Linked DNA regions of Homo sapiens: region 2 is linked to region 1. Evidence: fine-mapped expression QTL. Tissue or cell type: subcutaneous fat. Region 1 holds a variant in brackets; the other region holds the start of a gene. All regions are shown on one strand. Distances are between the middles of the regions.

Region 1 (2,754 bases):
CAGCCTCACAGACACGCCCAGAAGTGATGTTTTTTACCAGCTCTCTAGGCGCCACTTACCCCAGTCAAGTTGACTCCTAAAATGAATATCACAGCCAGGTCAGAGGTATGCACAGACTTTCCCTCTGAATTCCCTCGACGCCCTTTGAAGGGGTCCTATTATTATTCCCATCTTATAAAAGAGGATGTTTGAGAGTTTCAGTGATGGCTCCTGACCACACAGCTCAGGGCGGTGAAGCCCAGACACACATCAGCCTTCACGCCTGGGCTCTCAAGTTCTCCCCAGCCTGGTTTTCTCTGAACCCAACCCAAGTCTCTCCACTCCTGAGGGATGATACATGCCCACCCCTCTCCGGAAGCCTCCACGCCCACCCTCTCCTTCCACTTCTCCCAGCTGCATCTCCCAGCCACGCTGCCTCTGACCTGTCTTCCCCAGACCCAGCCTCATTTCTCCAGACCCCGGGCCCCTATCTCCCCTTTCCTCTGCCATTTGGCAGATTTGCTATGTGGCCCCGGGAACACAGTCTTCAGCAATCTCTGTCTAGCACGGTGCAGGGAATTAAAGGTGACTCACACCTGTAATCCCAACAACTTTGAGAGGCCGGGGTGGGAAAATCCCTTGAGTCCAGGAGTTTGAGATCAGCCTAGGCAGCATCTCCAGATCCCTTTGCTACAAAAACATTAAAATTAGCCAGGCTTGGTGGCATGCACCTGTAGTCCCAACTACTCTGGAGGCTGAAGTGGGAGGATCGCTTAAGCCCAGATGGTTGAGACTGCAGTGAGCTTTGATGGTGCCACTGCACTCCAGCCTGGGTGACAGAGCAAGACCCTGTCTACAAACAAACAAATGAACAGAAAAAAGACTGCAAATTCTTTGCCCCCCTCCCATTGAGAGGAAGCTGTTCCCCCTCCCGTTGAATCTGTGGGCTCCGGGCTCCATCAAGAGCATGTGGGGACTGAGTCATTTGTTCACCCGCGTTCACAGCAGCACCGTCCCCAACAGCCAAAAGGGGAAAGCAGCCCAAGTGTCGTGGACCGATGAATGGATACACAAAACGTGGTCCTTCCACACAGTGGAGCATTACTCAGCCTTCAAAAGGAATGAAGGCTGGGCACAGTGGCTCACGCCTATAATCCCAGCACTTTGGGAGGCCAAGGCGGGGGGGA[T/GT]CACCTGCCTGAGGTCAGGAGTTCAAGACCAGCCTGGCCAACATGGTGAAACCCCGCCTCTACTAAAAATACAAAAATTAGCTGGGTGTGTTGGTGGATGCCTGTGATCCCAGCTACTCAGGAGGCTGAAGGAGGAGAATCGCTTGAACCCAGGAGGTAGAGGTTGCAGTGAGCTGAGATTGCTCCATTGCACTCCAGGTGGGTGACAAGAGCAAAACTCATTCTCAAAAATAAATAAATAAAAAATAAATAAATAAAAAATTTTTAAAAGGAAATGAGGTGCCGTCATGTGCTGCAATGTGGATGAAACTCGAGGACATTATGTAAAGTGAAATAAGCCAATTGCCAAAAAACTGATACTGTATGATTCTGCTTATGTGAAGTGTCTGAAATGGCCTTGTTCATAGAGGTAGAGCAAAATGGTGGGTACCAGCGGCAAGAGGGGCAGAAGGATGGAGAGTTATGGTTTAATGCATACAGAGTTTTTATTGCAGATGATGAAAAAGTTTTAGATATAGACAGTGCCGATGGTTACACAATATTGTAAATGTATTTAATCCCACTTACGAATGATTAAAATGATAAATCTTATGTTTATTTCATCACTACCAAAAGGCTGTGGGTGCAGGGGTGCTGGTTTCTGGTCCTAGCCTAAGAGACTGGCAGTTTCCACCTTCTATCTCTTGGGACAGTAGCTCTGGGAGCCCTGAGCTGTCATGCAGGAAGTCCAGCTACCCTGAGACCACCATGCTGGAAAGGCCACAGGGAGGAGCTCTGTGGACAGTCCCAGCTGAACCTTGCCTTCCAGCTGTCCCTGTCAAGATGCCAGGCATGTGAGTAAAGCCATCATGGACCCTCTAGACCAGACTGCCCACCAGCAGGGTACCATCTGGCAGCCACATGGAGCAGAAGAACCGCCCAGCTGAGCCACTTCCAAACTCTTGACCCACTAAGTCATGATCCACAATGAACCCATCATAGGGATGGTTGGCTTTGCAGTGTGGATAATGAGGATGTCATGTGAGAGACAGCTGAGGTACTGACCCAGGGTGTGACTGATGCTCCCCATGTACCCAGAGCTCACTTGTGAAATGAGGACCATGGGACATCATGAGGATGAGAGGCGGTGATCCAGGAGTGTGGACATTCAGCCAATGCCTGACAGAGCTGGGATATAAACACCTCAGCTCCCTCTCCCTCAGGGAAGACTTTGAGGCGTGTGCTCCAGCAGCTGCCCACAGTGGGGGTAGGCATGGAGACACACCCACTGTGGCCCATCTTCCCTTACCCATCTCACTCCCTGGGATGGTTAATTTTATGTGTCCACTTAAGTGCACTGTGGGGTGCCCAGACTACACACTGTGTCTGTGAGAGTGTTTCTGGATTAGATCAGCATTTGAATTGTGGACTCAGGAAGGTGGACTGCCCTCCCCAAGTGGCTGGGCATAATCCAATCCCTCAAGAACTTGAATAGAACAGACAGCAGAGGGAGGAGGAGTTCACCCCTCATTTCCTGCCTCGCCACTGGAGCCGGGACATCTCGTCATCTCTTGCCCCTGGACTGGATGTCCACCATCGGCTGCCCTGG
Region 2 (2,754 bases), 20 kb after region 1:
CACGTCTGTAATCTCAGCTACTCAGGAGGCTGAGGCAGGAGAATTGCTTGAACCCGGGAGGCAGAGGTTGCAGTGAGGATCACGCCACTGCACTCCAGCATGGACAACAGAGACTCTGTCTCAAAAAAAAAAAAATGCACAAAGCAAAAAAAGAATGAAGCAACAAAAGCAGAAATTTTTTGAAAATGAAAGTACATTCCATGGTGTGGGGGCGGCCAAAGCATAGAGGCTCAGGGCCCCATTACAGAACTTGTGAGGTTTAAATACCCTCTAGGGGTTTCTACTGGTTACTTGGTGTACGCCCTATGTAAATAAAGAGGATGAAATAAAGTTACAAAATCATTTACTCAGTGTACACCCTATGGAGAGGGTATTTCCTGTCATAGCTGAAGTGTTCCCTGCCTCCAGACCCTGTTTTCCTGCCTCAATTCCTTTACTTTTCTAATAAACTTGCTTTCACTTTGTGGACTCGCCCTCAATTCTCTCTTGGGGTCTGGATCGGGACCCCTTTCTGGTAATATAGACAGAAAATACGGCCTTGACATGGTTGTCAGGAAACGACAGTAAGGCCTCCGAGGGTGGGGTTCTGAAGGGATGTTAAACGCCCCACCCCGAGGAAGGCTCTGGAGGCTCCAATCACTTTCAGCCTCTGCTACCAAGATGTCCGACCCTACCAATAAAACTTCCAGCAGCGGGGCGCGGTGGCTCACGCCTGTAATCCCAGCACTTTGGGAGGCCGAGGAAGGCAGATCACCTGAGGTCAGGAGTTCAAGACCAGCCTGACCGACATGGTGAAACCCCATCTCTACTAAAAATTTAAAAAGTTAGCCGGGCCTGGTGGCGCACGCCTGTAATCCCAGCTACACAGGAGGCTGAGGCAGGAGAATTGCTTGAACCAGGGAGGCGGAGGCTGCAGTGAGCCGAGATCGCGCCACTGCACTCCAGCCTGGGTGACACAGCAAGACTCCGTCTCAAACAAAACAAAACAAAAAACCTTCCAGCTTGGAGAAACTGAGAGTGAGCAGTAGGGAGTGAGGGGGTCCCTGGGAGGAACCAGAACTCATCCCGCTTCAGGGTGGGGCTGGCCCCCTTCTTGGCCTTGGCCGGGGCTTCGTGTCACGGAGCGCCCGAGGGACGGTCGGAGCCCACCCCAGCCCGCCCGCCGCCTGAGCCTGGCCGAGCTCTCTGCACCTGCACACGTCTGTAAAACGCGGATGAAACGCTTCTACGGAACCGGGTGGCTGAGATGAAGTGAGTTATGGGTATAAAGCGCTTAGAGCGATGCCTGGCGGACACTCGGTGCCAAATAAGCGTTCGCTGTGGCGACGATGACGCCTCCAGCCCAAAGCCCGTGGTCGAGCAGGGCCGGGCTCCCAGCGCTAGGGGGTTCCTAGGCGCGGCGCTTCGGGGGTCCTGGACACAGACACGGGGGACAGAGCTCCTACCAGCGACGATCCCGAGGGTCTGCAGCAGAGGGGCTGAGGCCCGGGACGGGGGTGGTCGCAGCGCCCTTTCCTGAAAAAACGGGGTTCGGCTCTAAGGCGCCCCCAAGCCCTGCCGGCAGCGCGGAACCCGAGCCGCTCAGAAGCCCGGGAGCCCCAAGTCTCCGGGACCAGAAGCGCCGCGGCCCTGACTTCCGGAAGGTGGACGGAACCCGCGGACGGGGCGGGCCCGCGTGGCGCACGCAGAGCCACTTCCGGGCGCGGCGCCGGCTTGGTGAGCGCGGGTACCCGCGGGCTTCCCCGGGCGGCTGCGTCCCCAGTAGCCCGGCCGGCCTCGGCACCGCGTGTCGTGGGGGTCCCGGGCCGCGGCTGCAGGGCCGGGGCGGCGGCGAGGCCGAGGGGCGGGAAGCCACTGCCCGGCCTGGCAGTGTGAACGTGCAAGTCGATCCCCTAACCCAGAAAGCCCCAGGCGCGGTCTCTATGGGCGGCCCCGCTCCTGCTTCTGTTTTATTTTTTTACGGACAGGGTCTCGCTCTACCGCCCGGGTTGTAATGCAATGGTGTGATCACGGCTCACCGCAGCCTCGACCTCCCGGGCTGAAGCGATCTTCCCGCCTCAGCCTCCTGAGTAACTGGGACCACAGGCGCGCCCTGCTGGTTTTTTTTTTTTTTTTTTTTGGTAGAGATGGGGGTCTCGCTATGTTGGCCAGGCTGGTCTCGAATTCCTGGCCTCAACGATCGTCCTGTCTCGGCCTCCCAAAGTGCCGGGATGACAGGCATGAGCCACCGCGCCTGGCCCCTTCTTTTGAATGGGCCTCCTTGCGTTTCCGTTTCAATGCCCCGTGCTACTTTTTTGGGAGCCCCAAGGCTGTACTGTTTGATTGACTCCTTTTTTTCCCCTTTCTTTTTAACCTAAATTAAAGCTGCCACTGCAGAGCCCCGCCATGGAAGACACGCCGTTGGTGATATCGAAGCAGAAGACGGAGGTGGTGTGCGGGGTCCCCACCCAGGTGGTGTGTACGGCCTTCAGCAGTCACATCCTGGTGGTGGTGACCCAGTTTGGGAAGATGGGCACCCTGGTCTCCCTGGAGCCCAGCAGCGTGGCCAGTGACGTCAGCAAGCCTGTGCTCACCACAAAAGTCCTTCTGGGGCAGGATGAGGTAAAGTGGATTGGCCGGGAACTGTGGCTCACGCCTGTAACCCTAGCACTTTCAGAGGCCTAGGCGGGCAGATCGCTTGAGGCCAGGAGTTTGAAACCAGCCTGGGCAACACAACAACACACACACAAGTCACTACAAAAAAACAAGTGCCTA

Evidence for each region. PIP is the estimated chance that this variant, and not a neighbour inherited with it, causes the effect.
Region 2: PSMG3-AS1 starts here. The variant in region 1 is fine-mapped to the expression of PSMG3-AS1 in subcutaneous fat (GTEx, PIP 0.98).

Annotation. Positions count from the first base shown.
Region 1 is chr7:1,588,505-1,591,258 of GRCh38, reverse strand. PSMG3-AS1 (PSMG3 antisense RNA 1) reads right to left here. Exons shown (of 5, transcript NR_027329.1): 5 at 1,633-2,754. Among named protein-coding and RNA genes, the nearest start is that of PSMG3-AS1, 20 kb to the right of the region's middle. The variant T/GT (reference allele first, on the strand shown) is at 1,167.
Region 2 is chr7:1,568,971-1,571,724 of GRCh38, reverse strand. PSMG3-AS1 (PSMG3 antisense RNA 1) reads right to left here and starts at 1,652. Exons shown (of 5, transcript NR_027329.1): 1 at 1,446-1,652. It overlaps PSMG3 (proteasome assembly chaperone 3), which reads left to right and starts at 1,693. Exons shown (of 2, transcript NM_032302.4): 1 at 1,693-2,601. The coding sequence starts at 2,386. RefSeq lists enhancers at 642-691, 702-771, 1,395-1,963 and silencers at 1,072-1,151, 1,592-2,021.